Linked DNA regions of Homo sapiens: region 1 is linked to region 2. The links come from fine-mapping of genetic effects on gene expression. A gene starts in region 2. The other region holds a variant in brackets. All regions are shown on one strand. Distances are between the middles of the regions. Region 1 overlaps UVSSA (UV stimulated scaffold protein A). Region 2 holds the start of UVSSA (UV stimulated scaffold protein A).

Region 1 (14,447 bases), 44 kb after region 2:
CACCCACGGCCCCGAAGCCACAGGTGCCATCTGTGTGGCTGGGTCCTGCTTCCCTCGTGTTTTCAGGCAGGTGAAGGCCTTAAGGCGAGAGAAGTGATTGGGCTGAGCCCAGAGTGGCTTCTAGGAACCCCTCTGGCCTCCTCAGCCATACCCCGCACCTGCCTCAGTGTGCAGGTGGCCACAGCTCTGTCCAGGAGGCGTGTGGCCACTGCTATGGCGGCAGGAGTGCGGGTGCCCAGAGGCCCTGGACAGCAAGGCCACTGTGGGGCAGCACTGCCACATCAGCAGGGCCCATCTGCCCACCCTGTCTCACCCCAGGCCCATCTGCCCGCCCTGCCTCCCCTCGGGCCCATCTGCCCACCCTGCATATCTGTTTTCCAAGGAAGATTTGTTTTTAGAGGCCCTGGCCAGCCTCAGGCGCTCTCTCTTCTTTTTACTTTGATTTGGCTTTTTTTTTTTTTTTTTTTGAAGCAGGGTCTCTCTCTGTCACCCAGGCTAGAGTGCAGTGGCGCAGTCATGGCCTCCCAGGTTCGAGCGATCCTCGTGCCTCAGCCTGCCAAGTAGCTGGAATTATCATGCCACCATGCCCGACTAATTTTTGTATTTTTATTTTTAGTAGAGGTGGGGTGGCACTGTATTGCCCAAGCTGGTCTTGAACTCCTGCATTCTCCTGTCTCACCTCCCAAAATGCTGGGATTACAGATGTGAGTCCCCGCCCGGCCTCGGTCCCTTCTGGAGAGTGGCCACACCTGCAGGCCTGGCCCTGGCCCGAAGTGGGGGTTCACACCTTGTCTTGAAGAGCAGCTCTGGGGGCCCAGGATCCCTTCCAAGCTGTCTCTGTCATGGCTCCCGGGTGTCTTGCACTCTGGTCATGAGAGGCAGATGTTGAGTGCAGCCTGATGCCCAGAGGCAGCAGCTCAGCCCTGGGCGGCGGGAGGGCCCTGACCTGCTAATCTCCGGGTGAGGCCTTCCCTGGTGGCTCACACTCAGGAGCAAATTAAGTGCCTATTTTTTGTGTCAACCCTGAAGAGTATCTGGTTTTCCAGCCCTTGGTGACTTGTTAACAAACAGGTATCAGGCCGCGGGCTGCGGCCAGCGCTGGCCAGTCAGATGTGAAATAGTGTCTCTTTACTAACTACGGTATTGATCCCCGCCTCCCTCGCGCACGGCGCAATTTTCCTTTCCCTGGTGCTAACCTCAGTGACAATGTGCGTGCTGCTGCAGGGCCCGTCAGCGCCCAGGAAGGCCGCGCGGTCCCAGCATCTATTGATTTTCCTCAAAGGCTTTTAAATTGCTCCTTCATTTCACTGAGACGCTCGCTCCATCTCTGCTGGGTGCCGGGGCTTTTTCGTTGTGTTTAAACAATTGCTCCATTCACCGGGTTCCTAAACTGTGGCGCCTTCTTATTACTGGGAGATAAACTGTTTGGACAGTTTTCCTTAATCTTGGATTAATCGTTCCTGTATCTGAATTGTGGGCCCCGTATTCCTTCACTTCAAAGAATCCGCTTGGGAGGCCTGGCCATCCGTCCGAGATGTGGGCATTCCTCCGGGGATGTGCCCCCGTGGCCTGGTCGCCCCCGTGGCCTGGTCCCACTGGCTCAGCTCGTGGGGTCCTGTCTGCAGGAGCGGGTGCCTCTGTAGCATTGGTGCCTGGCCCCCTTCTGTGAGCCAGGGTTGTCTGTAAGTCCCATGGCCATCACAGTCCCGTCAGGGGTGGCCTTCCCGAGCCCGACCAGCACCACACCTGGTGGAGGCCCACCTCCGCCTTGTGTGGGGAACCCCACAGGAAGCCTGGGCCTGTGACCCCCGAGGGCCTCAGTGCCATCTGCACGGTGGGTACTCTCAGCCTGGGAGGCTGCCCAGTGGGGCTGTTGACATTTCTGTCCCCTCACTGCCACAGGGCCTCAAGCAGACAATGCACGGCTTGCTTGGGAAGGGCAGTTCTGTCTAGGAGAGCCCCAGCCTGCATTTCTGAGGCCTGAGGCCAGGTCATCTTTGGATCAACGAAAAAGAAAAGCCCTTTGCTGAGCATCATGCTTGGCCCAGCCCTGCCACACGTACCTCCCCACCAGCAGGCGTGTCCAGCAGGGCCACAGTTTGCCTAGTGGGGCACGGTCCAGCCTGCAGGCAGGAAAGGAGCTTGCGGATGGTGCCACCCCCCAACCGCTGGCCTTAGCCGCCTTCCAGCCTGGGAGGCCCATGGGTGCCCTAGGAGTGGCCTCTGGGCTGAGCCCCTGCTCCCCATCTCTGGGCTGCAGGGGCCTGTGGGGGTGTGGGGCGGTGGGGGCAAGCTCTGTGTCACCTTCACCCTGTGGGGGCCAGCATGCCCACCCTCCCCAGCCTGTTGCTCAGGGAACCCTAACCGCTGAGCATCCTCTCAGGCTTGCTGCTGCCAGGGTACGGCCGTGGGCAAGGCGACCCAGCCCCCCTGTCAGGACGAGACCAAGAGCCCCTCCTGGGGGCCTCGGGTAAGAGGCTCTGGTCAGTGCCAGACGTCTCCTGAAGTGCTTGAGTTTTGTTTGCAGAATGGCAGGACCCTGAGTTGATGAGAGACGTGGAAGCAGCCACAGGGCAGGATCTCGGCTCATCCAGGTACAGCGGGAAAGGCAGGGGGAAGAAGAGGAGGTACCCCAGCCTCACCAACCTGAAGGCTCAGGCTGATACCGCCCGCGCTCGCATTGGGAGAAAAGTCTTCGCCAAGTAAGAGTGGCTGCTGGGTCACCTCCCACCGCGTGGCCCCCCCGTGTGAGGGTGTTCGAGGGGGGCCATCTGAGCGCCAAGATATTCCAGGGACTTGGGGCCTCCAGGGGCTCCCCTGCTTTGAGTTCCCCTGGGGGACCACCCAGCCTTTCCCCGGGGAGGGGCAGTGCCAGCCAGCAGGGGCAGCAGGCAGGTCTGCTCAGGAACGCCCCCCAGCATTCCCCAGGATAAGAGGGGCTCGACCGCCAGGCACCGCCATCCTCGCTTCCTGGGGGAGCCATGCCAGGACACAGGCCTTGGCTGGTGCAGAGTGAGCCCCTCGTCTCTCCCTTGCCTGGCTGTACCCCCAGGTCAGTGCCTGCGTATTTCTGCAGC[G/A]GTGACTTCAGGGAGGGCGATGACTGCAAAGGCGGGCAGAACGGGGGTCCACGCGTCAGCCCCAGCAGAGCCCAGCCCCAGCATGTCTTCTCTGAGCACTGGCTCTGGGAGGCTGGCCTGGTGTCTCTGCAGCCCAGCATGGGCCTGTGTGACTGGTGAGGACTTGGCAGGGCCAGAGTGCGAAGCCCACCAGCCCGGCGTCCCTGCGTGCAGTCTGTCAGCTGGGGCACCAGCCACTCGCACGGCCTTGTGTTTCTGTCTTCATATTGCCTTGTTCTCGCCTAAGAAAATCCAGAATGCTTGTTTAGAAGCCACCTGAGGCTGTTGACTCCCTCCCAAATCTGTGTCAAGTCCCTGCTGGTGCAGGTTTGTCTGGTAGCACCAGTGAGGTGGCCCCCACCCATCGCCATCCCAGAAACCCTCCCTTGGACACACCTGGAAGGTGCTAAGTGCACCGGGCAGAGGAGGCCCCTCCTGGCCAGCATGACCGTGCACCGGCCTGAGTGGGCTCGGGTGGGAGGCGCCTTCACAGCACTCAGACCAGGCTTCCCCCAGGCTTGTGGGTGGTACATCCACAGCCTTGCTTGGGTGGGGCAGGGGCGCTGGTGGGGGCTGTGGAGAGGCTGCCTGGGGCCCCTGGCACAGGGCTGGACCCATCCCGTATGCCAGCCACCCAAGGCACCTTAGCCCTTGGAGCTCAGGGTGAGGCTGTTTTCCCGTGGATCAGCCAGGGGCAGAGGCCAGCCTTGGTGCTGATGCCCAGGAGGAGGAATGGCCAGTGGGCCCATGCCAGGCCTCCTCCCTGTGTCTCATGGGGACACTGAAGCCCATGGCAGGAGCTGGCTCTTCGCCACAGCTGTGTGGCCCAGACCCCTCCCTACAGAAAGGATCTGGGGTGACCACAGGCAAAACCCTGCCTCGAGGGGCCCCCACAGCAGCGCCTGGCAGCCCCACAGGGGCCGCAGCTGAGCGGCAGCTTCACCACATTGTGGCCTCAGGCCCTGCTGGCTCCACAGCTCCACACCCTCGTGGGTCGCAGCAGCTGAGCTGGTCAGCACAGCACACCTCATCCTGCTCCCCGGAATGCCTGCCTGGCCCGTGCCCCCCCTGCTGCAGCCCTCCAGGTTTCCAGCCCTGGCCGTGGAGCCGTGCGTGCAGCAGCGGGCAGGGCTGTCCTGACGCCTCCTGGCTGCATCTCCTGCGAGGCCGCTCCCCGGGAGGCCAAGGGGGAGGCTGCCCTCATCCTGGAGTGCGGGAGGCCACGGGAGAAGTGCCAAGGTGGGGCTGGGGCCACCTTCACCGCGCAGAACCACCCGCCGCAGACTCCGCTTCTGGGACCTGGGGCGGCCCTTTCTAAGCCTGTCTGTCTCGGGCCAGGGCCAAGGGGCCCGTCGCCCATCTGTCTCTGAAGGTGGCACCCACAGGCAGTCTGTCAGTGTCCGAGGGCAGCAGTTGCCCCAGGACCAGTGCCTAACTTTGGTGATGCCGCCACTGGGAGCCCAGGCCCCTGGCGGAAGCCTCCCAGGTCACATCTTGCCTTGTTTCCCCACAGGGCAGCTGTGCGGAGGGTAGTGGCAGCCATGAACCGGATGGACCAGAAGAAGCACGAGAAGTTTTCAAACCAGTTTAACTACGCACTGAACTAGAGAGCGGGGCCCAGTGCACTGGCCATCAGCACTTTCTCCCTCTGCCAGTGTCTCAGGACAGCAGAGTGGGCGTGGGTCTGGGCAGTAACCATGCTTTGTCTATTACTGTGTTTGATGTAAAGAAATGGTGTGTTGCAATGCCCTGAAGGTACGGCCGCTCTGCTGCTACAGGGTTCGGCATCGTCTGGTGATGGGTCTGGCCTCGCAGAAGAGGCCCTCGGGCCTGGAGATGTGAACACAGGCAGCGACCCTGTTCCAGAGGGCTTCTGCGAGTCCTCGTGAGACCAGTGCTTGTCGTGGTGTGGGGTTCAGCACGGACGGAATGTGTGTGCAGCTCAGCCTTCAGAGCGTGCATTCCCCAGCCAGGAGGCGACCACTCAGAGGAACTCTGGGAAACCCACTTTTGTGCAAATGCTGTTTTTAACACAAACACAAAGGCTAGTGAACCGTTCAGTCATCTGCTTTCTGTTTCTGGATGTGCCTTTTCATACATGTGTCCTCTTGTCCCTGGCTTCTTACACTTGGCGTTGTTTTTAAGGTTTATCCATGCAGTTCCCCTCCAATGTATAAAACAAAGGAGGTGAAAACCTGTCCATGCGGAAGCTTGTGCACCCATGTTCACAGCAGCATTGGAGAAGGATACCGAACATCTTCTCGTGGGCTTACTGGCCATTTGTGTATCTCCTTTGGAGAGGAGTCTATTCAAACCTCTTGCCTATTTTTAATTGAATGATTTATCTTGAGTTGTAACAGTTGTTTTTTTTGTTTTTCCTTTTAGAGATGGGCTTTTGCTCTTACCCAGGCTGAGTGCAGTGGCAGAATCATAGCTCAGTGCAGCCTCAAACTCCTGGGCTCAAGCCATCCTTCCACGTCAGCCTCCCAGGTAGCTGGGACTACAGGCACACACCACAACACCTGGCTAATTTTTTAAATTTTTTGTAGAGATGAGGTCTCACTGTGTTGCCCACGGTGATCTCGAACTCCTAGCCTCAAGCGATCCTCCTGCTTCGGTCTCCCAAAGTGTTGGGATTACAGGCATGAGCCACCACTCCTGGCCAGGAGTTTATATGTATACTGTGGATACTAGATCCTCATGTGATTTGCAAAAACTTTATTTATTTATTTATTTATTTTTGAAATGGAATCTTGCTCTGTCGCCAGGCTGGAGTGCAATGGCGTGATCTCGGCTCACTGCAACTACCACCTCCTGGGTTCAAGCGATTCGCCTGCGTCAGCGTCCTGAGTAGCTGGGACTACAGGCGCGCACCACCACGCCCAGCTAATTTTTGTATTTTTAGTAGAGACGGGATTTCACTGTGTTGGCTGGGATGGTCTTGATCTCTTGACCTCGTGATCCACCCACCTCGGCCTCCCATAGTGCTGGGATTACAGGTGTGAGCCACCGCACTCAGCTGATTTGCAAAAACTTTCTTCCATACTGTTGTTTCACTTTCTGGATAGTGTCCTCTGAAGCACAAAAGTTAATTTTGATGAAGTACAGCAATTTATCTGTTTTTTTCTTTTGTTGCTTATGCTTTTGCTGTCACATTTCAGAAGCCATCACCTAATCCAAGATCACAGAGATTTACACCTAGTTTCTAATAAGCATTTTATAATTTCAGCTCTTATGTGTAGATCTTTGATCCATTGTGAATTAAGTTTTGTGTGTGGTGTAAGAGCCCACATTCTTTTGCATGTGGATATCCAGTTGTCCCAGCACCATTTGTTGAAAACATTATTTTTCCCCATTGAATTATCTTCGCACCATTATTGATAATCAGTTGACCAAAAATGTACAGGCTTATTTCTGGGCACTTGACTCTATTCCATTGACCTGTTTAACCTTATGCCAGTGCCACAGTGCCTTGATCAGTGCTGCTTTGTTGTGAGAAGTTTTACTTTGTTCTGCTTCAAGGCTGTTTTGACTCTTCTGCATCTCTTGCATTTCCAAATGAATTTTAGGATCCACTCATCAGTTTCTTCAAAAAAAAAAAAAAAGCAGCTGAGATTTTTGATAGGAATTACATTAAATCTAGAGATTGCTTTGGAATGTATTACCGTCTTAATATTAAATCTTCTGAGTCATGAGCTTCTGATTATCTTTCCATTTATTTGGGTCTTTTTAAATTTATTTCAACAGTATTTTGTAGTTTTCAGTATATAAGTTTCTCACTTATTTTGTTAAATTTACTCATATTTTATTATTTTTGATTTATAACCAAAAGGACTATAAATGCAATTATAAATTATTAAAAGATTATAAATTGCATTTACAAAAGCAATCACAAATGTAATTGTTTTCCAAATTTCACTTTGGGGCTGATCATTGCTAATATGTGGAAGTACAACTGACTTTTGTGTATTGATCTTGTATCCAGCATTCCTTGCTGAACTTGTTTATTCATTCTAATTAGTTGTATGTTCCCTAAGATTTTCCATACACAAAATCATGTCATCTGCAAACAGCTTTCTTTCTAATCTGGATTTCTTTTATTTCTCTTACCTAATTGCTCTGGCTAGTACCTCCAGGACAATGTTGAATAGATGTGGTGAGAACAGACATCCTCGTCTTACTCTTGATCTTAGCGGGAAGCTTTCGGTCTCTCACCATTGAATGTGATGCTAACAATGCAGTTTTGTGTAGATGCTTCTATCAGGTTGAAAAAGTTACCTTCTCCTCCTAGTTTGTTGAGTGTTTTTGTCATAAAGTATTGAATTTTGTCAGATGCTTTTTCTCCATCTGTCGAGATGATAGTATGATTCTTGTCCTTTATTATAGTGATACAGTATATTACATTGTTTCTCATATATTGAACCGACCTTGCATTCATGGGGCAAATTCTACTTGTTCATGGTGTATAATCCTTTTTCTATGCTGCTGGCTTTGGTTTGCTAGGATTTTGCATCTGTATTCATGAGGGATATTGGGCTGTAGTCTTTTTGTGATGTCTTTAGCTTTAGTCACGTCACTACTGACCTCATAGATTGAGGTGGGAAGTGTTCCCTCCCCTCCTATTTTTTGGAAGAGTTTGTGAAAGATTGTTGTTAATTATTTAAACATTTGGTGGAATTTACCAGTGAAGGCTGGGCTTTTCTTTGTGGGATTTTTTTCCCTAATTCAGTATCTTCATTTATTATAGATCTGTTTAGTTCCAGTAGTTTGCATCTTTCCAGGAGTTTGTCCCTTTCTAGGTTCTTTGTTGCAATCTGTTCATATATAATGGTTCATAGCATTAAAAAAAATTTTTTTAACTGACAAGGTCTCACTCTGTTGCCCAGGCTGGAGTGCAGTGGTGCAATCATAGCTCACTCCAACCTCAGACTCATGGGCCCAAGTGATCCTCCCACCTCAGCCTCCCCAGTAGGAAGGACCACAGGCATGCACCACCACATTCAGCTAATTTTCTGTCTTTGGTTTTGTTTTGTTTGAGACAGAGTCTTGCTCTGTCACCCAGGCTGGAGTACAGTAGCACAATCATGGCTCACTACAGCTTTGACCTCCCAGACTCAAGCAATCTTCCCATCTCAGCTTCCTGAGTAGCTAAGACTACAGGGGCATGGCAGTATGACTGGCTAATTTTTTAAAAGCTTATTTTTGGTAGAGATGGGGTCTCACTATGTTGGCTAGGCTGGTCTCAAACTCCTGGCCTCAAGAAATTTTCCTGTCTTAGCCTAGCAAAGTGCTGGGATTACAGGCATGAGCCACCACACCCAGCCCTAATTTTCTTTAAAATTTTTTTGTGGAGACAGGATCTTGCTGTGTTGTCCAGGCTGATCTTTGTCAAACTCCTGGCCTCAAGTGACCCTCCCACCTTGACCTCTCAAAGTGCTGGGATTGTGGATGTTAGCCAATGCTCCCAGCCTATTCATAGTATTTTCTGGTTTTAGTAATTTGATTCTTCTCTCTTTTACTCCCCTTAGTCTAGCTAAAGATTTATCAATTTTGTTGATCTATTTAAAGAAACAACTTCTGGTTTTGTTTATTATCCCCTATGATTTTCCATTCTTTATTTTGTTAATTTCCACTGTAATCTTTATTATTTCCTTTGGGTTGCTTTGGGTTTTATTTTCTCTTCTTTTTCTTGTTTCTTAAGATGGAAAATTAGCTTACTGATTTGAAATCTTTTTCATATAGACATTTGTAGCTATAAATTTTTATCTCAGCACTGATTTACTTCATCCCTTAAGTTCTGCTATATTGTGTTTTCCCTTTTTTAAATCTAAAAGTATATTCTGATTTTTCTGGTGATTTCTTCTTTTATCTCTTGGTTATTTAAGAGTTTGTTGTTTAATTTCCACATATATGTGAATTTCCCAGGTTTCCTTCTGTTATTGACTTCTTTTCTTATTTTTGAGAGACAAGATCTCACTTTATCTCCCAGGCTGGAGTGCAGTGCAGTGATCGCAGCTCACTGCAGCCTTGACCTCCCACCTCAGCCTCCTGAGTAGCTGAGACTACAGGCATGAGCCACCAAGCCTGGCTAAATTTTTAAAAATTTTGTTGTAGAGACAGGGTCCGACTATGTTGCCCAGGCTGTGTTGGAACTCCTGGGCTCAAGTGATCCTGCCACTTTTGCCTCCCAAAGTGCTGGGATTACAAGCATGAGCTACCATACCTGGCCTGTTACTGATTTCTTATTTCACTCCATTATGGCTAAAAAACATAGATTGTATGATTTCTCGTCTTTTATATGTATTGAGAGTTATTTTATTGGCATACCGTATTTTCTGTCCCAGAGTGTTGAAGAATATCTATCCTGCTCTTGTTGGGTGGAGTGTTGTATAGATGCCTGTTGGGTCTGATTGGTTTGTAGTGTTGTATAGACACCTGTTGGGTCAGAGGTTGGTTTGTAGTGTTGTATAGATGCCTGTTGGGTCTGATTGGTTTGTAGTGTTGTATAGATGCCTGTTGGGTCAGAGGTTGGTTTGTAGTGTTGTATAGATGCCTGTTGGGTCTGATTGGTTTGTAGTGTTGTATAGATGCCTGTTGGGTCTGATTGGTTTGTAGAGTTGTATAGATGTGTGTTGGGTCTCATTGGTTTGTAGTGTTGCATAGAAGCCTGTTGGGTCAGAGGTTGGTTTGTAGTGTTGTATAGATGCCTGCTGGGTCTGATTGGTTTGTAGGGTTGTATAGATGCATGTTGGGTCTGATTGGTTTGTAGTGTTATATGGATGCCTGTTGGGTCTGATTGGTTTCTAGTGTTGTATAGATGCCTGTTGGGTCAGAGGTTGGTTTGTAGTGTTGTATAGATGCCTGTTGGGTCAGAGGTTGGTGTGTGTGTTGTATAGATGCCTGTTGGGTCAGAGGTTGGTTTGTAGTGTTGTATAGAAGCCTGTTGGGTCTGATTGGTTTGTAGTGTTGTATAGAAGCCTGTTAGGTCTGATTGGTTTGTAGTCTGATTGTTTATGTCTTCTCTTCCCTTATTGATCTTCTGCCCAGTTATATTGATATTGAATGTGAGGTATTGAATCCTTCAGTTTTGTCAGCTTTTGTTTCATAAATTTTGAAGCTCTGTTAAGTGCATCTGTATTTCTATTTCTTTCTGATGAACAGACCCTTTTATCATTATGACATGTCCTTCTTTGTCTTTAGTGAAAAAAAAATGTCTTTAAGTCCCTTTTGTATGTTATTAGTATAGCCACTTAGCTCTTTTTTGATTATTGTTTGCATGGTATCTTTTTTCACCCTTTAACTTTCATTGTATCTCTGAATCTAAAGTGTGTTTCTTGTAAACAGCATATAGTGGGATCATGTTTCTTATCTGTCCTGCTGGTCTCTGCCGTGAATCTAAAGTGTGTTTCTTGTAAACAGCATATAGTAGGATAGTGTTTCTCATCTGTCTTTCTGGTCTCTGCTCTGAATCAAAAGTGTGTTTCTTGTAGACAGCACATAGTGGGATCATGTTTTTCATCTGTCCTGCTGGTCTCTGCTGTTTGAGAGGGATGTTTAATCCATTTACATTCAGTGTGATTACTGAGAAAGTTGGATTTGTATCTGCCATTTCTAAATTTGTTTACTATATTGTCTTTTTTGTCTTTCTTCCTTTATTTCTCCATTACTTTTTTGTGTTAAATGGACATTTAATTCTCTTGTAACATTGTAATTTCCTTGTCTGTTTTACTGGGTTTTTTTAAAAGTAACTTTCTTAGCAGCTGCTCTGAGTATTACAGTAACAACGTAAAACCAATCAAGTGTTCAGATGAACTTAATATAATGTACAAAAACCTTCACTTCAAGTAGCTTTGTTTCCTCTCAGCTTCTTGGTGCTGTATTTGTCATATAAATGCTACCTTTTAGATTGTAAGTCCGTCAGCAGTCTTGTAATTATTGCTTTATGCAGTTGTCTTTTAAATCACATAGAAGAAGAAAAGATGTACAAACAGAAATGAGTTTCTGCTGTCTCTGTTGCTGGCTTTGCAGTTGTCTTTTTTGGTGCTCTTTGTGTGGATTTGAGTGTGGTGTCTTGGACTTCAGCCTCAAGTATTTCTTGTAGGACAGATCTTCTAGCAATGAATTCTCTTTGTTTTTGTTTATCTGAGAATGTTGTAATTTTTCCTTCTCTTCTGAAGAATAATTGTGCTGGATATGGCTGACTTGGTTGGCCCTCTTTTTCTTTCAGTCCTCTATAGATGTCATTCCACTGCCTCTGGCATCTGTGGTTTCCATGGCGGGAGCACCGCACCATGTCTCAGTCTCTTTTTAGCTTCTGACTGTTTGACTGTGGTGTGTCTAATTGTGGATCTTTCAGTGTGTCCTACCTGCAGTTCTTTGAGCTTCTTGGATATAGAGGTTAATATTTCTTGTAGTCTGATTGTTTACATCTTCTCTTCACTTATTGATCTTCTGCCTAGTTATATTGATATTGAATGTGGGTATTGAATCCTTCGGTTTTGTCAGCTTCATGTTCAGCCAGTGACTGGACAGGGGACCCCTTTAAGTGCTTTGCACCAGTAACTCTCATGGTTCTGCTGACACACAGTTGATGTGTGGTGAGTATGCCTTCAGCGCTCCATTGTGGTTCTGCAAATTTGGGAAATTTTAGGTTGTCGTTTCTCGAAATATTTTATGTCCATGTTCTCTTCCCCCACTTGGACTCCAGCTACGTGTGTTGATGTGGAGCTGGGCACAGCCTTGGAGGCCTCCTTGACTTTCCTTTATTCCGGAATTTTTTCTTCTTCTCAGAATGGGTCATCTCAGTTGACCTATCTTCAAGGTCACAGATGCTTTTGCCAAACAAAACCTGATGTCAAGCTGCTCTAGTGAATTTTTCATTTCAGTTATTGTACTTTTCTACTCCAAACTTCCATTTGGCTCTCTCCTATAATTTCTGTATCTTTACTCATATTCTTTGTTTAGTGAAACATTCTCATACTTTAATTCTGTAGACACAGTTTCCTTTAGTTATTTGAACATATGTGTAGAAGCTGATTTAAAGTACTTGTCTAAGCCGGGCGTGGTGGTGTGCACCTGTAATCCCAGCTACTTGGGAGGCAGAGGCAGGAGAATTGCTTGAACCCGGGAGGCAGAGGTTGCAGTGAGCCAGGATCAAGCCATTGTACTCCAGCCTGGGCCACAGAGCGAGACGCTTTCAAAACTAGATAGATAGATAGATTAGATAGATAGATAGATAGATAGATAGATAGATAGATAGATAGGATAAGATAAGATAGATAGGTGACTTGTCTACTAAGTTCAACATCAGGGCTTATTCAGGGGAAGTTCCTATTGATGACCTTTTTTCCCATGTCAGAGCCAAGGAAATAACATACTCTTTCTTTGTGGTCTCATATATATGTATTTTTTGAAGACTGGACACTTTAATAATGTGCTGTGCAACTCTGGAAATCAGATACCCTCTCCACGAGTTTATTGTTGTTCTGTTGCTGTTACCTTTTGTTTAGTGTGTGTTCTGGACTAATTTGAAGTGTCCACCTCATCAGCTTCATGTTCAGCCAGTGACTGGACAGAGGACCCCTTTAAGTGCTTTGCACCAGTAACTCTCACGGTTCTGCCGACACGCAGTTGATGCATGGTGAGTGTGCCTTCAGCGCTCCATCGCGGTTCTGCTGACACGCAGTTGATATGTGGTCAGTGCTCCAGCAGGCAGCTGCCAACTGTGCCTTTGCCTTCACTTCTTACTTGCACACAGCCACAAAGCCAGCCAGAGGTGAGGGCCAGGGCAGCTCAGGTTCCTCTCGGGCACACACACAGCTCTGTGCCTGTGTGGGCACAGCCTTCCATGCCTCCAGGAGTGTGGCAGAGCTTCTCAGCGGCCACTGTGGGCATCTCGTTCCTCAGATCTTCCTTTCATGAGTTATGTAGTTGAATTATCAATCTTTCTTGGCTTCTAAGTTTTGTGTTCTACTTAGAATGCTCTTCCCCCTTAAAGATTATATTTGAAATGTTTTCCATGTTTTCTTCTAGTACTTTTATGGGTTTCATTTTCATATTGAAATCATTGATCTACTTCTAGTTTTTGATACAAAATGTGAGCCAGGAAACCCAGTTTTTAAATTTCAAATAGCTGTCCAGGTGTCCCTGCACCTCTTATGCATGAGCCCTCGCTTTGTGCCAATGTGGAGTGCCCGCCTGCTCACACGTGCCCATGTGGAGTGCCCGCCTGCTCATGTGCCCATGTGGAGTGCCCGCCTGCTCACACATGTCGATGCGGAGTGCCCGCCTGCTCACACATGCCCATGTGGAGTGCCCGCCTGCTCACACGTGCCCATGTGGAGTGCCCGCCTGCTCACACACGTGTCCATGTGGAGTGCCCACCTGCTCATGTGCCCATGTGGAGTGCCCACCTGCTCACATGTGCCGATGTGGAGTGCCACCTGCTCACACACGTGCCCATGTGGAGTGCCCGCCTGCTCACGTGCCCATGTGGAGTGCCCGCCTGCTCACACGTGCCGATGCGGAGTGCCCGCCTGCTCACACGTGCCCATGCGGAGTGCCCGCCTGCTCACACGTGCCCATGCGGAGTGCCCGCCTGCTCACACGTGCCCATGCGGAGTGCCCGCCTGCTCACACGTGCCGACGTGGAGTGCCCGCCTGCTCACACGTGCCCATGTGGAGTGCCCGCCTGCTCACACGTGCCAACGTGGAGTGCCCGCCTGATCACACGTGCCCATGTGGAGTGCTCGCCTGCTCACACGTGCCGATGTGGAGTGCCTGCCTGCTCACACGTGCCCATGTGGAGTGTTCGCCTGCTCACACGTGCCGATGCGGAGTGCCCGCCTGCTCACACGTGCCGATGCGGAGTGCCCGCCTGCTCACACGTGCCCATGTGGAGTGCCCGCCTGCTCACGTGCCGATGTGGAGTGCCCGCCTGCTCACACGTGCCCATGTGGAGTGCCCGCCTGCTCACGTGCCGATGTGGGGTGCCCGCCTGCTCACATGTGCCGATGTGGAGTGCCCGCCTGCTCACACGTGCCCATGTGGAGTGCCCGCCTGCTCACACGTGCCGACGTGGAGTGCCCGCCTGCTCACGTGCCCATATGGAGTGCCCGCCTGCTCACACGTGCCATTGTGGAGTGCCCGCCTGCTCACACACATGCCGATGTGGAGTGCCCGCCTGCTCACACGTGCCCATGTGGAGTGCCCGCCTGCTCACACGTGCCCATGTGGAGTGCCCGCCTGCTCACACACGTGCCCATGTGGAGTGCCCGCCTGCTCACACGTGCCCATGTGGAGTGCCTGCCTGCTCACACACGTGCCCATGTG
Region 2 (14,089 bases):
GTGTGATTACCAAGAACCTTGCCTGTGACTGACTCTGTCCCGCCTGTGACTGACTCTGTCCCACCTGTGACCGACTCTGTCTGCCTGTGACTCTGTCCCTGCCTGTGACTGACTCCATCCTGCCTGTGACTCTGTCCCACCTGCGACTCACTGAGTTCCTGCCTGTGACTCACTCGGCTCCCGCCTGCAACGGACTTGGTCCCTGCCTGCGACTCACTGTGGCCCTGCCTGTGACTGAGTCTGTCCCGTTTGTGACTGATTCCTTCCTGTGACTGACTCTGTCCCACCTGCAACTGACTTCTTCCTGCCTGTGACAGACTCTGCCCCTGCCTGCGACTGAGTCTGTCCCTTCCTGCAACTGAGTCCATCCCGCCTGTGACTCTGTCCTCGCCTGTGACTGACTCTGCCCCTGCCCTGTGACTGTCTCACCTGTGACTGACTCCGTCCTGCCTGTGACTCAGCCTCTTACTGACTCTACCCCTGCCTGTGACTGACTCTGCCCTCTCCTGTGACTGACTCTGTCCCCACCTGTGACTGACTCTGTCCCCACCTGTGACTGACTGTCCTCCTGCAACTGACTCTGTCCCCGCCTATGAATGTCTTTCATGTGACCTGCCTCAGGCCCAGAGGGCAGTGAGTGTTTCGCGATTGCTGCTGGTACCTGGCTGTGCCGGGGTATGAATGAGACTCAGGCCCCCTCCCTTGTCCCCTCTTTGTGGAACTCTGGGCGAGAGGGCTGGCGTGCTTGCCCACTGCCTGTTCCTAGGTGCCAGCAGAACGTCCCTGCTGGGTGGCTCTTGTCCTGCCTGGAGAGGTTGCGTGGCCGGGGAGAGGGCGGCGGGCGACGGAGCCACTCTGTGCCTGTGGTCCTGGTGCTGGAGGCCGGGGTGAGAAGGCGCAGGCTTCTTGTCTCCACCGAGGCCTCAGTGGGGCTGTTTAGCTGTCGAGTGCAGCACTTCCTGTGCCTCGAAAGACAGCCCCGTGTAGTCAGCATGGCGCCCACATAGCCAGAAGGGCACGCAGCCCAGGGCAGAGTGGCCACAGGGGGCTGGGCTCACCCCGGCTGCCCTGAGTGGCCCCCAACCCTTCCTTGACCCGATGCTCAGACAGTGCTACAAGGAGGACGGCAGCTCCAAGAGCCCTGACTGCCCTGTGTGCAGCCGCTCCCTGAACAAGCTGGCGCAGCCCCTGCCCATGGCCCACTGTGCCAACTCCCGCCTGGTCTGCAAGATTTCTGGCGACGTGATGAACGAGAACAATCCGCCCATGATGCTGCCCAACGGCTACGTCTACGGCTACAATGTGAGGGGGGCAGGGCAGGGGGGCCAGGCTGGCACGCATCGCCATCGGGACAGGGCTGTGTGGGACGGGCAGGGCAGGGGGGCCAGGCTGGCACGCATCGCCATCGGGACAGGGCTGTGTGGGACGGGCAGGGCGGGGGGCCAGGCTGGCACGCGTCGCCATCGGGACAGGGCTGTGTGGGGCGGGCAGGGCAGCGGGGCCAGGCTGGCACACGTCGCCATTGGGACAGGGCTGTCCTCTCGCCCCACCCTGCCTTAGCTTCGTTCGAAATGGATGAAGGGGTGGGAAGGACAGGCGAGGTGGCCCCGGGATTTCTTTGGCAGGTGTGCCTTCGGGAAGGAACTTTGCCTGAGAGGATGAGTCATTCCCTGGTGGTTCATTGTGGGGATTTTCCATGGAAATCCGTGTGTACGTTGTAGTCGCTTGCCTTAATGCATTCCCGGTTTTATTTTTCAGTCTCTGCTTTCTATCCGTCAAGATGATAAAGTCGTGTGCCCGAGAACCAAAGAAGTCTTCCACTTCTCACAAGCCGAGAAGGTGTACATCATGTAGGCCCCACGTCGTGAAGCGCACGCCTCGGGGACGGGCTGCAGTGGGCGGGGAGGCCACGCCTTCCTCCTGTCCCACGCTCCAGCCTGCCGCGGCGTTTCTGTTTCTTGCGACCAAAGATCCGTGAGCAACGATAAATACTCTTAGGAAGAGAGAAAATAAGGTTTCATAAGTTTGTACTTGAAAACATTTGGATTGGTAGGATTTTGTAACACGTCAACCATTTGATGCTTCTGAAAAGTACTTTCAACTTGCGAAGGAAACTCTTCTTTAAAGACTGACCTAAACACCGAGGGAAACTTAAGAACGTTTAAAATATAGGAGTCCGTGATTTCCCTGTGTTTTCAGTTTCTTTCCTTCTGTGAACGATGAGACTTGGAGAACGGGCTGGTCCTTCACCACTTCCTGTTGGCCCTGGCCTGGCCGGGGAAGGTGGCAGCGGCACCGGACTGACCTGCAGTGACCCGCGATGCCGCGCCACGAGGGACACTTATGGCTTCATTCGAGAGCTGCTGCCAAAACGCCTGGCGCCGCCACCGTCGGGGGCTGGCTTCGAGGACGCCCGCCTGCCTCGCGGGTCGTGTCCGCGGGACTGTGTTCGTACGTGCATAGTTTCGATATCACATCGCGGGGCTGTGTTCGTAGCTGCGTCGTTTCGATATCACACCCTCTGTGTGCCGCCTTACTTCCTGCTTCGAGAATGTATAACGTGGAAATCCACGGGACCAAATTTCTGCAGAGGCCTTGCCGGATGGTTCCATAACTGTAGAGTCTAATTGCTATCCATTACAGAAATTAATCGTTCAGTTGAAAGAAGTACTGATGACTTTTCAAAACAAATGAACCACCGTAGCTGACAGAGAACCGTATCGTAGAGGTTTGTAGTTAGTGCTTATTTTTGCATGTTGATGTTGACTAGCTAATAAACTGTAAATGTAAACCATGCGAATAAAATGGTTTTCTATTTCTCATTTCCGTGTGAGCCGAGGCTGCCGTGCGTTTCTAACACCGAGGTTGTGTTCTGCTCCTCCCCGGGGCCCGGGCAGCATGGCGGGCATATGCGTAGCTTCTGGCACCACGGCCACCGGGAGTTGAGAAGCCGGCTGGAGGCCACTCCTGCCCGGACCGCAGTCCTCCTCTCGGGCGCTGCCCTGAGGCGTGATGGCCCCAGCGTCTTGAGGCCCCGGCTTGCAGCTGGGTGAATCAGACACTGGTTCCTGGGACCCACGGGCCATTGTCTGTTGGGGGTGGGGGCTCAGGCTGCAGCCACCAGCAAGCCTGGGCCTGCGGCTTGGGCTGAGTCTAGGGTTGGGCTAAGGAGGCCTGCGGGCTGTGGCCACTGGCCCTTCCCCCCACCGCCCACCCCTGTTCTCTCCAGTGCCCCGTCGCAGCTCCTGTGGCCAGCCTGGTGCCCCTTAGCCCATCTCTTACCCCATGGTGGCTGCCCTGGCCCCTCCACAGCACCCAGCTGGAACCCACCACATTCCCACGTGCTCTTCTTTGGAGCGCCCGTCCCCAGGTCCCCTCGGCCGAAGCAGACCCTGTGGCCCCACTGCCACGCAGCCGCCCCGGCCTCCACCGTCCTCACGTGCAGGGGCTTTCCTTGTCTTGCGTCCTGTTCTTTCCTTTTTAACTCGAGTAGAACATACTGGAGCACACACATTCTAAGTTCACATAACGAATTTCTGTGTAACATGCATGTAACCACCAAACAGACTGTTCCCAGCCCCTGGCCTTGCCCGGTCAATATCCTGGTCAGTCATCATTGGAGTGGCGCACCCCGGCCCTGAGCTCCTCGAACACAGAGCCACATGGCGTGGGTCCGTGGCTCAGCGTTACTCGGCGGCTCAGCCCTGGCACGGCAAAGTCTTGCCTGGTTACAGGCCTGTGCTCTCCAGGCAGAACAAGCGCAGCGGCCTGGCCCCTCTCCCGCCGGTGGACATCAGGCGGTGTCCAGGTAAAGCTGCTGTGAGCACTCCGGGAGGTGACCCTTGCTGGACGCATCATTCTTTTGTGGGGAGATGCCGAGGAGTTGCCATTGCTGGGCCACGTGTCCACTCAGCAGACACTGACGGTTTGTTAAAGGGGTTGCACCCACTTCTGCCCATCTGCTCCACATCCACACCAGCGAGTGGCACTGGGAGTCTTGAATGTGAGATGTTTTGTTGGTTGTGTTATCTCGCTGTACTCTTTCTCAATTGAGGTAAAAATTACATACACCAAAATGCACATACAAGTAAAAGCTACTCAATGAGTCTTAATAAATGTACCTCCATGTGACCACCACTGAAGCCCAGGCATGGAACGTCCCCATGGCCCCAGAAAGGGACCCCTTGTACCTTCTGAGTTATCCACAACCCCTACACAAAATCATTGCTCTAATTTTTGTCACCGTAGGTGAGCTGTGCCTCCATAGGTGTCAGATGGTGGAATGTGGACACTGGTGGATCTGGCTTGTTTCCACAGACGCTTGTGAGGTTCATGCCTGTTGCACATGTCAGCAGTTCCGTCCTTAGGTGTTGCTGAGTGGAGTGATAGTAATCCATGTATGCACAGACCACAGTGTACACCAGGCTGGAGTGCAGTGGCGCAATCTTGGCTCACAGCAATCTCTGCCTCTCGGGTTCAAGCGATTCTCCTGCCTCAGCCTCCCGAGTAGCTGGGATTACAAGTGCACACCACCACACCCAGCTAATTTTTGTATTTTTAGTAGAGACGGGGTTTCACCATGTTGGCCAGGATGGTCTCAATCTCCTGACCTCATGATCTGCCTGCCTTAGCCTCCCAAAGTGCTGGGGTTACAGGTGTGAGCCACTGCGCCCGGCCTGTATCCATTCTCTTGATAGACATCTGGGTTGTTCCCTATTTGGGGCTATAATAAGTAAACCTCTTATGAACATTTGTGTGCCAGTCTTCTTGCAGACATTATTTTCATTTCTTTGGGAAGTAATTCTCTGGAAGTAGAAGGAACTGAGTCATGGTGTGTTTATGTTTAACTGTACCACAACTGCCAAAGATTTATCCAAAGTTGGTGGTAGTGTTTTACACTCCAGCAGCAGTGTGAGGATTCCAGTGGCCCCACATTGTTGTCAACACTTGGTAGTGTCAGGTTAGTCATTCAGGTGGGTGTGCACTGGGGCCACAGTGTGATTTTCCCTTGCTTTTCTTTGATGTCTGATTTTGACCTGATGCGCTGATTGTAATTTACATATTTGTCTATTGCTCATTTTAAATTGCATTATCTTACTGATTTGTAGGGATTCCTCACATACAAATCCTTTGAGGGATATGTGTATTTATACTTTATTGACTGTCATTTGATCAGCAGATTTTTTAAGTTTTAGTGCAGTTCAATTTATTCTTTCTTTTGTGGCTAATGCTTTTCTATGTTCTAAAAAAAAAATCTGCCTATTCCAGGGTTGCAATAATATATCTTCCAGAAGATTCAGTTTCGGCTTTTAAGTCTGTAACACATCTCTTAACTTGTGTGTGTTGTGTGAGGAAGAGCCTGAGGATGATTCCCCACCATCCCATATGTTTACTCTATTGTTCTAACACCATTTGTTAAAAAGACCTTTCTTATCCCGTTGAATAACGTTGGCTCCATTAGAAAAAATTCCTGGCTGTGTTAAGTTGGGGTTTATTTCTGGACACTACCTTCTGTTAGACTGGCCTTTAGGTCTATCCTTGTCCTAACACCACATTATCTTAACTATTGCCGTTTTAAGGCAAATCTTGAAACCAGGGGGTATGATGAGTCCTCCAGTTCTGCTTTTTCAGAATGGTCTTGGTGGTCCTAGGTCTGTTGCATTTCCACGCACGTTGTAAAATCAACTCATCAGTGTCTGCTGAACACTGTAAAAAGTGTGCTGGGATTGTCACTGGAACTGCAGTGAACCTATCATCCCTATTTGGGGACGGTATTAGTTTGCTCGGCTGCCGTAACAGAAGACCACGGACTAGCGGGTTTAAACAATGGACATTTATTTCTTCACGGTTCTAGAGGAGATGCTGGCAGGGTTGGCTCCCGGTGAGGCCTCTCTTCCCGGCTTGCAGACGGCCCCCTTCTCACTGTGTACCTCTCGTGGTGGACTTCCTCCTGTGCACACACATCTCAGGAGTCTCTTCATCTTACGAGGACATCAGTCCTATCAGATGAGGGCTCTATCCCTAGAATCTCATTTAACGTTCCCCTCTTTAAAGGCCTCATCTCCAAATAAAGTCACATTGGAGGTTAGGGCTTCGACATAGGAATTTGGTAGGCAGGGGCCACAATTCAGTCCATAACAAGGACTTATAAATCATAACAATATTGAGTCCTCAACCCATGAATATGGTATATCTTCCTGCAGATTTAGATCCTTCTCGCATCTAAGGTATTGCCACCTCCAGGAGGCAGATCATGAGGTCAGGAATTCGAGACCAGCCTGACCAACATGGTGAAACCCTGTCTCCACTAAAAATACACAAATTAGCCAGGCGTGGTGGCACGTGCCTGTAATCCCAGCTACTCGGGAGGCTGAGGCAGGAAAATCGCTTGAACCCAGAGGGCAGAGGTTGCAGTGAGCCAAGATCGCACCATTGCACTCCAGCCTGGGTGACAAGAGTGAAACTCCGTCTCAAAAAAAAAAAGTATTTATAGAACTTTTCATTCCTTTTATAAAGTTTGCCTCTGGTATCATTTTCCTTTCATCTGAAGAGCATCCTATAACAGTTCCTGGACTGCAAATCTGCTGGTCATAATTCATGCAGCTTTTGTCTGAAAATGCTTTTACATCACCTCAGTTTTTAAAGGCTATATTGCTGCATATACAGTTCTAGATTGACAGTATTTTTTCTTTTACCACCTTAAAGATGTTCCATTTTCTTCTGGCTTTTTTTTTTGGGTGGAGGGGGAGGAGGGGACAAGAAATCCTTGGCTTCTTTGTGCCTGTATGTCATACGCCTTGTTTAATCTGACTGCTTCTAAGATTTGTCACTAGTTTTCTGCAATTTAAGATGTGCCTTGGGTGGTTTTCTTTGTTTATCCTGCTTGGGTTTTATCATCTCTAAGTTTCCATTGGTTCTTTTAAAATATCTTTTAGAAGTATCTTCTAATTCTTGGCTTGGTGCAGTGGCTCATGCCTGTAATCCCAACACTTTCGGAGGCTGAGGTGGGCAGATCACTTGAGGCCAGGAGTTCGAGACCAGCCTGGCCAATATGGTGAAACCCTGTTTCTACTAAAAATACAAAAATTAGCTGGGCGTGGTGGTGGGCGCCTGTAATCCCAGCTATTTGGGAGGCCAAGACACGAGAATCATTTGAACCTGGGAGGCAGAGGTTGCAGTGAGCCGAGATCACACCACTGCACTCCAGCCTGGGCGACAGAGCAAGACTCTGTCTCAAACAAAAACAAACAAGAATATCGTCTAACTCTCATCATGATTTATCTTGGCTTTCTAATCTTATCCAGCATTCAACAAATATTGAGCACCTGCTTTTTGTCTGGCTTCATGAAACAAAGATCCCTATTTTCAGGGACTGTATGTTTTAGGAGTGAAGAGAAAAAAGCGAATCACCTAGTAAGACAGTAAGTCTGTGTGACACAAGGGCCAGAAGTGCCCTGGGAACAAGCACGGCAGGTTTAGAAAACGGATGGGGGGTGTTGAGCCAGGGAGGTGAGCGGGTGCAGAAGTATTTGCTCAGGGTGAGACATGAGCAGTGGCTGGAAGGAGGCAAGGAACTCTGTGGATACTGGCAGAAGCTTCCCGGCAGAGGGATCCGCTCCCCAGAGGCCGTGTGGCAGCAAGAGCAGGCTGGAGAAGTCAACCGGTGGGATGCAGGGGGCAGCAAACACAGGCCACGACAGGTTTTGCCTTGCCCTGGGATGGGAGCCGTCGGAGGATTTTGTGTAGAGGAATCCTGTGATCCGACCTTAGACTTTCAAAGGTCCCTCTGGTTGCTGCATGATGGTCTAGGGGTACCAGGGTGCAAGGGAAAGACAAGGTGACGGCAGTGACCTGCTGCAGGGGTGGCCAGGAATTGGCAGTGGCAATGAGGCAGTGGGACGTGCTCAGATCTGGATGTGTTCTGAAGGTAGGGCTGTCAGGATTTGCAAACCAAATGGGCATGGAGTGAGAGGAAGAGAGAAGCCCAAGTGAGTCAGATAATTGGTCCAAGCGAACAGAAGGATGCAGGGCAGGCCCAGGCACGGTGGCCCAGGCACGGTGGCTCACGCCTGTAATCCCAGCACTTTGGGAGGCCGAGGCGGGCGGATCACCTGAAGTCAGGAGTTCGAGACCAGCCTGACCAACATGGTGAAACCCCGTCTCTACTAAAAATTCAAAAATGAGCTGGGCGTGGTGGCGGGTGACTGTCATCCCAGCTACTCGGGAGGCTGAGGCAGGAGAATCGTTTGAACCCGGGAGGCGGAGGCTGCAGTGAACCGCGATCGTGCCACTGCACTCCAGCCTGGGTGACAAAGCGAGACTTTGTCTCAAAAAAAAAAAAAAAAAAAAAAAAAAAAAAGGCTGCAGGGCCATCAGCGGATACAGAGGGCAGTGGACGGGCAGCTTGGCTGTGCTGTTGAGCCTGAGGGCTGAGAGGACACCCCGGGGCAGTGTAAAGGAGACTGGACTTAGCAATTGGTAAGAAAAGTTGGATAAAGAGAGGGTTTTGTTAGTATGGGAGAAACGGCACCCTTTTATACTAATGAGAACTAGTAACAACAAAAAAAACCACGCTGTAGAAGACAGAGGGAAACTGCTGGATGGGTGCCTTGGAGGAAGCCACAGGCCGGGGATTGGATGCACAGGGCAAGGGGCGCTGAGGGAGGGTCTGGCTGCAGCTTGCTCAGTGAAGCAAGAGGCAGGGTGAGGAAGGGGTGAGGCGGAGGAGCGGCTCGGGGCTGGCTGCAAGCTAGGAGCTGGGAGCCACTGACGCCCAGGGACAGAAGCTGGTGCTGCAGAGAGGGGCGGCGCAGGGAGTCCCTCTTCTTTTCCTTTTTAAAATAATTGCTTTACTGAGATATAACTCACACATCCTGAAACCCACCCTGTAAAAACACGATTAACAGAGTTGTGAGCTACCACCACCGTAATGCAAGGGCACGCCCATCCCCCCGAAAAAGAAACCCCGGCCCGCCGCCGGCGGCCCCCGCCCTGCACCCAGCCCCGGGAGCCCAGTCGGGCGTCTGCTCTGCGTGGCCTGTGCCGGGCGCCCCGCGAGTGGGGTCCACACCACGCTCCTCCGAAGCCACGGTTTCCCAAGCGCGGTCTCCAGGTCCGTCCGTCCGCAGCCGACCTCGCACTCCCCTGCGTTCGAGGCTGCGGACTTCGGCGGCAGGACGGACGGCGCCTCTGCTTCTCATTCCGCCCAGGGCCAGCCCGGGCCCAGGGGTACCTGCTGTGCGTCTGGCGCCGAGGTGGGCCCCGAAGACCCCCAAGCCCGCCCAGGGATTCCCTTCCCGAGGCCGGAGCGGGGAGGCGCCGCGGGGTTCAGGGCGCCCTGCGCGGGGCGAGCTCGGGGGCGGGGGCCCGCGCCCGCCCGTCTGGGCGGTCCTCACCGGCCCTCTGCAGGTGAAGGGACCTGGCTGCGAGCCCGCGGGCGGGCGTGGCGTTGAGGCCCAGACCGGAACTTCCTTTCGGCCTCAGTTTCCCGGCCGGCCCCGCCCCCGGCGCCCGTACATGCGGCCCCTTTAAGGACTTTCTGCGCCCTCCCGCCTCTTTTTTCTCGTGCGTCCCCCTCCCCACCCCCGGCAGCCTGCCTCGCCCTCGCCGGGAGCGCGCCTACGTCACCGCGCAGACCTCGGCCGCGTCTTTGCGCCTGCGCCTCCTGGGCTGGGGTGAGCCATTGGCTGTCGAGCTCAGGGCACGTGCTAGGGGGCGGGGCCTTGACCGGAAAGGGTGGGGCAACGGCGAGAAAGGCCGCGTCGAGCGGTAGGTGCAGTCGTCGCTGTGGTGACCCCAGGTCCTGATGCGTCCGGCCCAGGGCCAGCCAATGGCGGTAGAGGTCTTGGGCACCTGACAAGAGGGGCGGTCCCCCCGCCGGAAGGGGCGGGGCGAGGCGAGCGGCCGCGTCAGCGGTAGGTGGGGCTGTGGTTACGCTGCCGGGCGGGGGTCGCGCCGGTTCGGTCCCCGGGGCTCTGCGGGCGCCGGGCAGAGACCTGCGGCCAGGGCGTGTCCCGTGTGCCCGAGAGCGCCGGCGGCGGGGCCGGAGGGCGGGCCCTGGGCCGAGTGACAGGCCGCAGCCCCCCGAGCACCGTCGAAGCCGGCGCGCCCGCCCGGTGCAGCCGCTGTGCGAGAGCGACCCCGCGGTCCAAGCCTCGCGTGGCCCTGCCGGGCCCCTTCTTTCCCCGAGTAGGGCGCAGCTTCCCAGCCTCCGCCCCGGCCTCGCCTGGCGCTTCCTTCCGGGTCCTTCGGCCTTTCCCTGGCGGTGCGGCAGGCCCTCGCCTCATCCCACCAGGCACGCCGCGGTGCTCGGCCCTGGGTATCCGGGCAGGCTGCCTCCGTTAGGGCCGCCCCTGCTCTCCGGACGCGACTTTTCATTGGTCTCAGAATTTCTTGGCTCCTCTTGGCCTCTGCAGCCTTGCTGGAGGCTGCCCTGCGGAATCTGAGTGAATAAGGGAAACAGCAACAGTCACGTTGGGGAAAAGCTGATTCGGACAGCGCCACTGGTTCCTTTAACGCACGACCCTCAATGCAGCGTCCCACACACGGGATTGTAGAGGTCCCGAGTTTAAGGTTCACTTTTAAAACTGCAATCACCGCCGTAAAGGCCTTGCTGGACACACATATTTCCCAGAGAGGCACCCACAGATGGACCCCAGCCTCAGGGTCCTCCCGGAGCTTTCGGTTTATAGTGGAACCCAGTAAACACGTTAATAACACCGAGAGCTATAAAATACAGATGGTGATATAGCATCTCTGCCTTACTTATTTCTAGATATGGATCAGAAACTTTCGAAGTTGGTAGAAGAGCTCACAACTTCAGGAGAACCCCGACTAAATCCTGAGAAAATGAAGGAACTGAAGAAAATTTGCAAGTATGTCTTAGGGTTCAGTAACAGTAACTGACTGGCCCACTGAGCCCAGGACACACACAGGGCCCTGCCCTCCTGCCCCCACCTGGGAGAGAACCACCCGAGGGACACACCCAGGACATTTTCTCGGGGCCCTGCAGTACCCGGCTCTGACGGGTGGTCATGTTCTGGGGTCGGGGCGTGTGGCGTTGGGGACCCCACTGCTCTGTGGTTGGTGCTTCTCTTCATTCCCATTTGTGTGGTCTGGAGCACATCCTGTAGGAGTTCTTGAGTGCACAAATGTGATTCAGAGAGAAACGTGCATCTTTTTCTTTGCTGCTGGACTTTTCGAAGGGAAAGAATAGAGCTTGCTGATGGGCGAGTTGGTCCATCGCCTTTAGGGTATGTCCACCTCTGTTCACTTCCTCCAAGGAAAACGCCGGAGGGGATCTCTGCCGTCACCCTCAGGCAGCCAGAGATTCATGGGGGAAGCAAAACTTCCCCTCGGAGGGTGGAGCATAAGTCGAGGACACTGATTATTCTGTATCCTGTGTTTGTAAAATGGCAGTTTATAGATTGTTTATACAGTGATGGAGTGTTGACATTTTGATAGAAAATTTCAGGTCAGGTTTTGTGGCCTGCGCCAGGAAATCGAATTCGCAATGGTTTATGTGGGGTCAGGAGCTGGGAATAGGAGCATTCAGGAGGGGCTGGGAGATGTCCCGAGCTCTAGGCCTTCCTTCCTTCCTGCAGCAGGAGGCACCCAGCTGAAACAGTGTGCGTGCTGGGCGGTGTGCGTTGTGCCAGGCGGTGTGTGTTTGTGCCGGGCGGTGTGCGTTGTGCCGGGCGGTGTGCGGTTTGTGCCAGGCGGTGTGTGTTTGTGCCGGGCGGTTGGCGTTTGTGCCGGGCGGTGGGCGTTTGTGCCGGGCGGTGTGTGTTGCGCTAGGTAACGTGTGTTTAAAGAGCCAGATGGTTTGTGTTTCAGGCTTTGCTGTAATGCCTCAGTTGTGAACACAGCTGTAGATGATGTAGGTGGATAGATGGGCGACGTTCCAATGACACTTTGTGAATGAACACCGACATTTGAAGTGTATATGATTTTCACATTTCACCAAGTATTTTTTGTTTGTATTGACATTCTTGGCTTGTGGGCCACACAGAAACAGGCAGGGGCTGGGGAGGTAGATGTGGCCCTTGGGCAGTAGTTTGCAGACCCTGCTCTAGAAAAGGGGAGAATGAAGATGGGAAGGCAGTGGTGGTCCCTGCCACACGTGCGTGCGGCATCCATGCACGGAGAGTCTCCCCCCGCCCATCCTCTGCGTGTGGGGCAGTTGGGTCAGGCCAGCTCGCATCCCCAGGTCTTCAGAGGAGCAGCTGAGCCGCGCCTACCGCCTGCTGATAGCACAGCTGACCCAGGAGCACGCCGAGATCCGTCTCTCAGCCTTCCAGATTGTGGAGGAACTCTTCGTCAGGTCTCACCAGTTCCGGATGCTGGTTGTTTCCAACTTCCAGGAGTTCCTGGAGCTCACGCTGGGCACAGACCCCGCACAGCCTCTGCCGCCCCCCAGGGAGGCGGCACAGAGGCTGAGGCAGGCGACCACCCGGGCCGTGGAAGGGTGGAATGAGAAGTTTGGGGAGGCCTACAAGAAGCTTGCCTTGGGCTACCACTTCTTAAGACACAACAAAAAGGTAGGTGGGCCTGGCCCATTTTTTCAGAGACTGGTTACCTGACGTGAGGAGGGCAGACGATACCAGGGTGAAGATGCGCCTCCTGTTGAACCTAGCACAGCAGGGGCCTGCTTGGCCTTGCCTGAACACCCAGGCTGCCAGACCATCTGTGGGGTGTGGGAAAGAGGGCAGCATCTAGGGTCACGGCCTCCCTGAGAGGGGCGGCGCAGCTCTGAGAGGAAGAGCATAAGCTTTATGTGTGGGTGGAGCTGAGGCTGCATGTGTCATTTTTTATGTGCGTGTAGGAGACAAAGGAAAAGCCAAATCCAACTTTTCAGATGCAACGTTTTCTGTGACAGTGGCCCCTGGACTCTGGGACCTGTCCCAACCTTGCACTTTAAGGCTCCACCCGCACCCTACTATGGGCTCGGGCTGGTGCCTGGCATGATGAAACCCACCAGGATCTGCCACTGTGGCCTGAACCCAGCCTCATTGCCCAGACCCTACCGTGCCCCTTACCCCACCTGCCACGAAGGCTCAGTCCTCCCCAGTGCAATGACCCAGCCCTGCTGGCTTCCCTGTGTGCCCTTGGAGTGCCCTGTCTCCCAGGGTTCATGCTCAGGGTTTGTTTCAGACTCCTGGGTCCAGTCAGCAGCCTCTGCCTGCTAATGGAACAAGCACACTGCTCTCCTACCTGTGAGGTACTTGGGGTGAGAAGTCTCGTCACCTCTTTTAAGTTAGCAGACGTGCTGGCTTTCCCGGGCTCAGACAGCAGAGAGACGTGCATTGTGTTTTGTTGTAATGCACTGTGAACACCTGGGTGTGAGGGTGCACACCCACAGTCCCACTGACTCTGGAAGCCGAGGCTGGTGGATCACCTGGTCCTGGGAGTTTGAGTCCAGCCTTGGTAACACAGCAAGACCGTTGTCTCTTAAAAAAAAAAAAAAAAACTACTGTGAACTTACAGACGCATAGGGCTCTTGGCCACGCATGGGTGCTGTCTTTTGTTAGGCCTACTTGAGCTTTATCTTCCTCACATTCTGTATAGATAGCTCTAGTTTTTGTTGTTGTTGTTGATGATGTTGTTTTTGAGACAGGGTCTTGGTTTGTCACCCAGGCTAGAGTGCAGTGGCGCGATCTCGGCTCACTGCAACCTCCGCCTCCCTGGTCCAAGTGATCCTCCTGCCTCAGCCTCCCAAGTAGCTGGGACTACAGGCACACGCCACCACACCTGGCTATTTTTTGTTTTTAAGATGGAGTATTGCTTTGTTGCCCAGGTTGGAGTGCAGTGGTGCGATCTCAGCTCACTGCAAGCTCCACCTCCCGGGTTCACGCCATTCTCCTGCCTCAGCCTCCCAAGTAGCTGGGACTACAAGCACCCCCCACCACGCCCGGCTAATTTTTGTATTTTTAGTAGAGATGGGATTTCACCGTGTTAGCCAGGATGGTCTCAATCTCCTGACCTTGTGACCCACCTGCTTCGGCCTCCCAAAGTGCTGGGGTGACAGGCATGAGCCACTGTGCTGGGCCAGCCCTAGTCTTTATTTTCTTTCTTTTTTTTTTTTTCTTTG

The links.
Region 1: its variant is fine-mapped to the expression of UVSSA in tibial nerve (GTEx, PIP 0.98).

Annotation. Positions count from the first base shown.
Region 1 is chr4:1,381,239-1,395,685 of GRCh38, forward strand. UVSSA (UV stimulated scaffold protein A) reads left to right here. Exons shown (of 14, transcript NM_020894.4): 13 at 2,528-2,702; 14 at 4,630-6,811. The coding sequence ends at 4,723. Among named protein-coding and RNA genes, the nearest start is that of NKX1-1, 18 kb to the right of the region's middle. RefSeq lists enhancers at 13,199-14,398, 13,999-14,447. The variant G/A (reference allele first, on the strand shown) is at 3,078.
Region 2 is chr4:1,337,316-1,351,404 of GRCh38, forward strand. It overlaps UVSSA (UV stimulated scaffold protein A), which reads left to right and starts at 9,893. Exons shown (of 14, transcript NM_020894.4): 1 at 9,893-10,445; 2 at 10,775-10,874; 3 at 12,209-12,539. The coding sequence starts at 10,777. MAEA (macrophage erythroblast attacher, E3 ubiquitin ligase) reads left to right here. Exons shown (of 9, transcript NM_001017405.3): 8 at 1,107-1,302; 9 at 1,759-2,822. The coding sequence ends at 1,854. RefSeq lists enhancers at 1,867-2,385, 7,610-8,133, 8,134-8,656, 10,502-10,581 and silencers at 8,952-9,041, 9,262-9,591, 9,832-10,271, 13,636-13,804.